3 separate regions of the Homo sapiens genome follow, and all the other regions are linked to region 3. A link means that fine-mapping ties the variant in region 3 to the expression of a gene that starts in the linked region. Tissue or cell type: whole blood. Region 3 holds a variant in brackets; each other region holds the start of a gene. All regions are shown on one strand. Distances are between the middles of the regions.

The links. PIP is the estimated chance that this variant, and not a neighbour inherited with it, causes the effect.
Region 1: it holds the start of BTNL3, and the variant in region 3 is fine-mapped to the expression of BTNL3 in whole blood (INTERVAL, PIP above 0.99).
Region 2: it holds the start of BTNL8, and the variant in region 3 is fine-mapped to the expression of BTNL8 in whole blood (INTERVAL, PIP above 0.99).

Annotation. Positions count from the first base shown.
Region 1 is chr5:180,987,230-180,989,916 of GRCh38, reverse strand. BTNL3 (butyrophilin like 3) reads right to left here and starts at 1,071. Exons shown (of 8, transcript NM_197975.3): 1 at 840-1,071. The coding sequence starts at 888. It also overlaps the pseudogene ARPP19P1.
Region 2 is chr5:180,897,914-180,900,600 of GRCh38, reverse strand. BTNL8 (butyrophilin like 8) reads right to left here and starts at 1,442. Exons shown (of 8, transcript NM_001040462.3): 1 at 1,242-1,442. The coding sequence starts at 1,290.
Region 3 is chr5:180,936,130-180,938,816 of GRCh38, reverse strand. All of the region lies in intron 3 of BTNL8 (butyrophilin like 8), which reads right to left. Among named protein-coding and RNA genes, the nearest start is that of BTNL8, 38 kb to the right of the region's middle. The variant T/C (reference allele first, on the strand shown) is at 1,397.

The sequences.
Region 1 (2,687 bases), 51 kb before region 3:
AAGTGCTGGGATTACAGGTGTGAGCCACCACGCCCTCTGAGCACACATGGATTTTGATCCCCTTATTTCTGTTTTGTTGGCTTTGTTTAGCAAAACAGTCATAGGTAGACAAATAGCAGGATGGAACTGTTCCAGACAGAAAGTGAACACAGTCAAATGAACTTTTTGTGGCTTAACACTGACCACCCAGAATCCAGTGTTCTACTCCAGCCCCTATCTCTCCCTGCAAAATTTATTTGATTACTGAATATCCTATACACCAGGCTTTGTCTTGATGGTTACTAGAAGGAGAAAGAAGAGTGGGTTTCTGCCTAGACTATGCCAGGTTCCAACTTACTCCTCACTTAAAGGTCTGGTGCTCTACCCCATAACTACAGGTGTTTCTAACTCAGCATGTGCATAACTGGACACATTGTCTTTTTCTCCAAACATCCTAAACAGTGCCACCTTCCACCCAGGCACCCAAGTCAAAAACCTGGGGATTTTATTAGAGACTTCCCCTGCCTAAGCCCCACAGCCCACCTGGGGAGAACAATGTGTTTACCTTGGCGTTCTCAATGTGTTCCCTCCCTGCTCCCAGGGCCTGCTCCCATTATTCTGAGCTACTGTGATAGTGCCCAAGTCCTTGAGAAACAGCCCAAGGAGTCTTCCTCAATTCCTGCTGCCCTGTGCTTCCCACAGCTCCTGGCATTGGTAGTTTCCAGCCTGAGGCCAGGAGAAGCTGGAGAATGCAAGCACCAAAGATTCCTGCATCTCACTGTGCTGAGATCATTGTCATGAATGAACTCAAAATATTATTCAACAAGGAGAAAAACAACAGTCCAAACTGAAAGGCTTACCTGACACCAGCTCGTAGAAACTGAGAACCAAAATGAGCACAAAAGCCATGGATATTCCTGTGGGTTGATCTCACACTATGAAAACAGATGACAGCAGGGGTGGATGGATGATTTGGAGGTCAGGCCAGCTGTCTCAGGCGCAGGAGCCGTGGAGAGGCTCTTCATGAACGATGTCAAACTGTGCATTTCTCCCTAGAGCCTCCCTAAACATGGCTGTATGAATGAGGAGTATGGGCACTGGAGTTTGAGTCACTGCATTTATTGGCAGGTCATAAACATCTATCTCAGACCAGAGAAATGATAATGGAAAGAGAGTAGGGTACACTTGGAGGGACTTTGTTCTGGGTTGTGCCCCACATAGGTGGTAAAGGAATGCCAGATGCAGAGATATTTTCAGGCTTAGTCTGGCAGGCAGAGCTGCAAGAGAGAGTGAACATCTGTCCCTGAAAGAGAGATTGGACGGGCGCAGTGGCTCATGCCTGTAATCCCAGCACTTTGGGAAGCCAAGGCAGGTGAATCACGAGGTCAAGAGATCGAGATCATCCTGGCCAACATGATGAAACCCCGTCTCTACTGAAAATACAAAAATCAGCCAGGCATGGTGGTGCGCACCTGTAGTCCCACCTACTTGGGCGGCTGAGGCAGGAGAATTGCTTGAACCGGGAAGAGGGAGGTTGCAGTGAGCCCAGATTGCACTACTACACTCCAGTCTGGTGACAGAGTGAGGCTCTATCTCAGAAAAAAAAAAAAAAAAAAAAAAAAAAAGAGATCATCTCAGCACAGGGTAGTGAGGCAGTGAATTTGCCCAGGCACACAGGCCATGCCCCATGAGACTCATATTTCCTGGCACAGCATGAGGTAATTCTGCCCATCCCTCCCTTGTCTTGAGTTCAGGGACAGGACTCTGATCATGAGGCCAGATTGTGTTGAACTTGCCAGAACAACCAGGACCTTGATCTCCAAGGATCCAAGGTATTGAGAAGGGGACCAAGACGATGTTTCAGGCCCGGGGGTAAGGCAAAGGCAAAGATGCATTCATTCAGTCATTCATTAGATGCACTAAGCCAGGACACACACAGTTAGGGATTATGCAGTGATTTCAAGTCTAGGGACATGCACAAAGAATAAGCACTTACTAGATCAGAAAGCAGGTTTCCACGGAGAGCACCACGAAGGACAACGAAGGTAAAGAGCAATTTAAAAAGAGGAAACCCCATGAACTTAGAAATTGTTAATAACACAATTTTAAATAACTAATGGGTCTAAGAGAACTAATAATAGAAGTTGAAGGTAATTAGACTAGAAGAAGAATGAAAACACTACATTTAAAATACTATGATGCATGTAAGGCAGTTCTTACAGAAAGGCTTATCCTTAAGTGCTTGTATTAGGAAAAAAGAAGTCTGAAATTGGCTGAACAAAGCATCTGAGTTAATCAGAGTTAACTCTTGGATCCTGAGGGTCTCTGGCCACTCGCCTTGTCTTTTCTCTCCCTTCACTTTTCTTTTTTTTTCCCCCACAATCTGTAAACATGTAATCCTACCTTAAGTACAAAGCCATTACAAATGCAAAAAAATCAAAGATTACAAGTCAATTTCTTTCTGCCTACAGTAATAGCTGAAATGTAAAGAGATCAACTTCAGAAAAAAATACATTGAAAAACATACCACTTTAATAAGACAAAACTGCAAATTAGATGAATAGAAATTAGGTAGATCCATTTATTTTTTAAATACAAGTATAATTTTGGAAGAGCTATTTGACAAATTCAGCATTAACTGCCAACTCTGTAGACATGTTTAACAACAACAACAAAACAAGACATTTACTCTTGGCCCTTTTAGTACA
Region 2 (2,687 bases), 38 kb after region 3:
AGGGCTGTGTGGGGCTCTTGAGGCAAGGAAACATTTTTCAGGGTACCTCCATTTCTCCGGCCAGCCCTTGCTGCTGTCACCTCTCTTGCCTATAACATCTCCTTTCACTCCTTCCACTTCCTTCCCTTGAAAATAAGAAAGGAACAAGACTGTTGCTGCAACATGCCATGCACCCGTGCAGCTGTGTGCACTCTACATGCACAAGCTCATGCAGTCCTCACCACAGCCCCAGCAGGAATGTGATCGTATCTCCATGTCATCATAAGCAAACCAACACCTAAGGAAGCTGTGAACAATAAAGCTCACAAGAAAATGAAATAAGAGTTTTTAAAAATAAAATGTTTCTGTCTCCAAGATCATTTCCAGGATGTCCTGCTGCCTCACCCGGAAACAGAAGGGAAACAAAGAAGCTCGTCAGAAAATAAATGAAAACAAACTGAAACGAGAGCGTCTCCTGTTAGTAACACATATGGGTTTTTGTTTTAAGGAAACATGCTCTATGTTTTGATTGCCCTTATTTCTGTTTTCTTAGCTTCATTTAGCAAAAAAGATATAGGTGGACAGGTGGCAGGATGAACCTTCACAGACAGAAAGTGAACACAGTCAATCGAATCTTCTGTGGCTGGGTACTGACCATCTAGCCACCAGCATTCTACCCCAACCTCAAGCTTCCTCTGTGAATTGTATTCAGTCACTCAACATCCTATATACTAGGTTCTGTGTTAACAGTAACTGGAAGGAGAAAGAAGAGTGGATTTCTTCCCAGAATATGCCAGGTTTCAGCTAATTTCTCACCTCAAGACCTGTACACCTTCCTCCACCCTCGTGTCTCATACCACAGACATTTCTAACTCAGCATGTCTTTAGCTGGATACATTGTCTTTTCCCCAAAAATCCTAACTGTGTCTCTTCCCAGATGGACATCCATGTCAGCAACCTTGGTGCTCCAATAACCCTGCCTACACCACTCAGCCCATCTGGGAGAAACACTGAATTTATTCACCTTAACACGTTAGGTGTGTCCCCGTCAACGATCACGGTGCGTCTTCAACACCCGTGTTTCCATTATTTGGGGGCTACTATAATTGTTTCCACAGCGCCTGATCCTTCCCCAGGCTGAGGCTAGGAGAAGCCAAAGGAATGGAAACGACAAAGATGCCTTCATTCCATTATGCTGCAACCATTGTAGCTAAAGAACTCAAACTGTTAGTTAGTAAGGAGGAAACAAAGATGAGTCTTACCTGATCCCAGCTTGAGGAGACTCAGAACCAAACTGAGCATGAGAGCCATGGATGTGTTCTGTGAATGGACCTCACGGCATGGAAACGGATGACAGGAGAGGTGACGGATGGATTAGAGAGAAGAGGAGAACTGGCCTAATGCTCAAGGTGCGGAAGCCACGGAGAGGCTCTGCGTGAGCGGAGGGCAAACTGCGCTGTTCTGAGAGTCTACTCCATCGAGACACAGCTGTCATGTACCAGAAGTGTAGGGACTCTAGACTTTGAACCACTGCATAAATGTCTATATCTTATCAAGGAAGCAAAGATAGAAATAGTGTGGATAAGATTGGAGGTGAACTTTGTCCTGGGCAAAACGATGCCCTGTGTGGGTGAAACAGGAATGTCAGATGCGGAAATACTTTTCACGTCCAATCTGGCAGGCAGGGCTGTATGGCCATGGGATCTAGTCCTGAAAAACCTCATGTTAGCACTGGATAGTTTGGTGTCCAAGTAAATAGGCCATGCTCCATTAGTAGTAGCCTACAGCAGGTGACTTGACATTTCCTGGCACAGTCTGAGGTCCTTTTGCTTACCCCTCCATTCTCTGAAGTTCAGGGCCAGGACTGTAATCATGAGGCCAGATAAAAATAACTTTCCAGAACAAAACAGATCCTTAGTGTTAAACATCTGATACATTGGGAAAGGTGCCTGGGCAGGTTCAGACATGAGGAAACTTATTTATTATATAAACTAAGTTCCAGGGCAGCCACAATGAGAGATTTGCAGTCTTTTTAAGCACACGGAAACTCACAAAGTCACCACTTAACTAGATCAGAATGAAAATTTCCACAGATAACCATCAAAATAAACATACTCTAATCATAATGCAATTAAAATTAAAAAGTAATTCAAAAACATAGGAAACTCTATACACTAAGAAATTCTTATGTAACAATTTAAAACAACTCACGAGACTAAATCACAATAAAAGTTAGCATCTAGAATAGGACAAAATGAAAACACTGCATTTAGTCTAAAATCTAGAACACTGACAACACCAAATGCTGGTGAGGATGCGGAGCAACAGGAATTCTCACTGATTGCTGACAGGAATGCAAGACGGTACGGTTGTTCTAGAAGACAGTTCAGCAATTTCCTGCAAAATTAAACATACTTTTATCACCTAATCCAGCAACTGCACTGCTTTTTATTCACCTAAATGACTTGAAAACATATGTCCACATGAAAAATTGCACATGAATGTTTATAGCAGCTTTATTCATAATTGCCAAAAATGTTTGCAACCAGATATCATTCAATAATGATACATAGAATGTATACACAAACTATGGTACATCTATACAATGGAATATTACTCTGTGATAAAAAAAAAAAGGAAATGAGTTGTTGAATGTTGTAAGCAAGAGAGTAGAATAGAAAATTATTGATCTCATGCTGTCTCAGAAA
Region 3 (2,687 bases):
CTTTGAACATAGTATCCCTTTCTCTCTTGGCCTGTAAGATTTCTGTTAAGAAATCTGCTGTTACCATCCTGACCAACATGGCGAAACCCCGTCTCTACTAAAAATACAAAAATTAGCTGGGTGTGGTGGTGCGTGCCTGTAATCCCAGCTACTCGAGAGGCTAAGGCAGGATAATCACTTGAACTAGGGAGTCAGAGGCTGCAGTGAGCCGAAATCGTGCCAGTGGATTCCAGCCTGGCGACAGAGCAAGACTCCATCAAAAAAAAAAAAAAGAAAGAAAGGAAGGAAGGAAGGAAGGAAGAAGGAAAGAAATCTGTTGTTAGTCTGATGGGAATTCTCTTGTACGTAGCATGACACTTTTATCTTGCTCATTTTAGAATTCTCTGTTTGTCCTTTTGACAATTTGACTAAAATGTGCCATGTAGAGGACCTTTTTGTGTTGAATATTTTGGAAACTTTTAAGCTTCCTGGAACTGGATGTCCACATCTCTTCCAGGACTTGCAAAGTTTTCAGCTATTATTTTATTAAATAGGTTATTTACACCATCTCTCATCTCTTCTTCTGAAACTCACATAATATGAAAATTTTTTCACTTAATGGTATTTCATAAGTCCTGTATACTTTCTTCATTCTTTTTTCTCTTTCTTTTTTTCATCAGACTGGGTTATTTCAAAATACCTGTCTTCAAGTTCAGAAATTCTTTCTTCTGATTTATCTCCTGTATAAATTTGAAAGGAATCAAATTTTATCACTATAGTAATCCATCAAATGGCAATGTTTTTATTTCATTCATTGAATTCCTTAGCTCCAAGATTCCTGTTTAGCTCTGTTTTGTAGTATCTGTCTCTCTGTTGAATATTTCTTTTTTTTTTTAAATGGGGAAAGGGGCTTTTAAAAAGTATTTCATTTAGATGAAAAATTGTTTTCCTGATTTTGTTAAATTCTCCATTTCTAGTCTCTTGTGTCTCACTAAGTGTTCTTAAGATCATTATTTTGAACTCCTTTTCAGGCATTCATAGATTTTATTTTCCTTGGAGTCTGTTACTGAAGAATTACTGTGTTCCTTTGGAGGTGTCATATTTCCTTGGATTTTCATGTTTCTTGGGTTCCTACATTGATATCTGCAAATTTGGTGGAACAATAACCTCTTCCAATTTTATGGAATAACATTATATATAAACCACCTGTTAGTTTTGTTGATGTTTTCTTCTGTTTTTCTACTCTCTATTTCTGCTCTAATTTTTGTTATTTCAAACATTTTCAACTTGGGGCTTCTTTTTTTTATTTTTCTAGTTCCCTGAGGTGGAAACTTTTATAGGCAAAGATGTTTTCCTGTAGATGAGTCCTATGGTGTTGGTTGGATACGTGGGTGCTGTATTATATTAATAATTTCCA[T/C]GTAACTGCTTCAGCTGTAATCAACATTGGAAGTACCTTCAAGTGTGTCAATGTTGTAGGCTGTGTGTAGTTTTGGAGGCAATGGCACAGCTTTGCAGGGAGCTGGGGCCACCAGCTAGGCTGGTTTTTAGGCAAGGGCAGTGCACACCAAACATGACAGCTCCACTGGTCACTTGGTCCCAGGGGTGTACCAGTCGAGGAGGCAAGGTTACTAGAGGTGCCAGGTGCTGAGTGGGCCAGTACCTGGAGTCCTAGACGATGCACGTAGCATGCAGCAGCTCTGCAAGTAAATGAGATATGGCCACCATCAGTGGTGGACACCAAATGGGCTGTTCCTGAGACTCCTGGGGGGCTGCGTGCAGCATGTAGTCACTCTGCCAATCAAGGATATGAAGTCATGGCAGCAGGTGCTGAGTGCGCCAGTCCTTGGAACCCTGGGGGATGCAGGCAGTGTGTGGTGCCTCCACTGTTCCAGGGGGTGGTATTTCTGGTGGGAGCAGATGCTGGGCAGGCTAATTCCCAATTCCTGGGGAACATGTGTGGTGTACAGCACCTCTGACAGTTGAAAGTTTCGGCTCACTGGTGGTCTGGTCACATGTGACTCCACAAGTCCTTAGATCACTGGAGTCACATGTGGCAGGCAGCAGCTCCACCAATCAAGTGGTCAGGGTCACTGGTTGAGGGGATGGAGTGGCCAGTGGCAAGCTTCAGCTGTGTTCGTCCACAATTCCTGCAGAGCACACTACGGCAAGCGGCAGCTCTGCTAGTCAAGGACATCAAAACAATATTAATTCTTCCAATTATGAACACAGGATAGTTTTCCATTTGCTTGTGTTTTCTTCAATTTCTTTAATCAGTGTTTTATAATTTTCCATAATTTTAACCAGGTCTTTCATCTCTGGTTAAATTTATATCTAAGTACTTTTTTGTTGCTATTGGAATTGTTTTCTTAATCTTTTTCAGATAGTTTTTCATTAGTGTATAGAAATGAAACTGATCTTTGTATGTTGATGTTGTATCTTTCAACATTACTAGACTTGTTTACCTTTTCCAATACTTTTTTGGCTAAGTCTTTAGGATTTTCTATATATAAGATGATGTTATTACTAAATAGAGACAATTTTACTTTTTTCTTTCCAATGTGGATACCTTTTCTTTCTTTCTTTTGCCTAACTGTGCTGGTTAGGACATCCAGTACTATGTTAGAAAGAAGTGCCGGGGCGGTGGCTCACGCCTGTAACCCCAGCACTTTCGGAGGACAAGGCAAGCAGATCACAAGGTCAAGAGATCG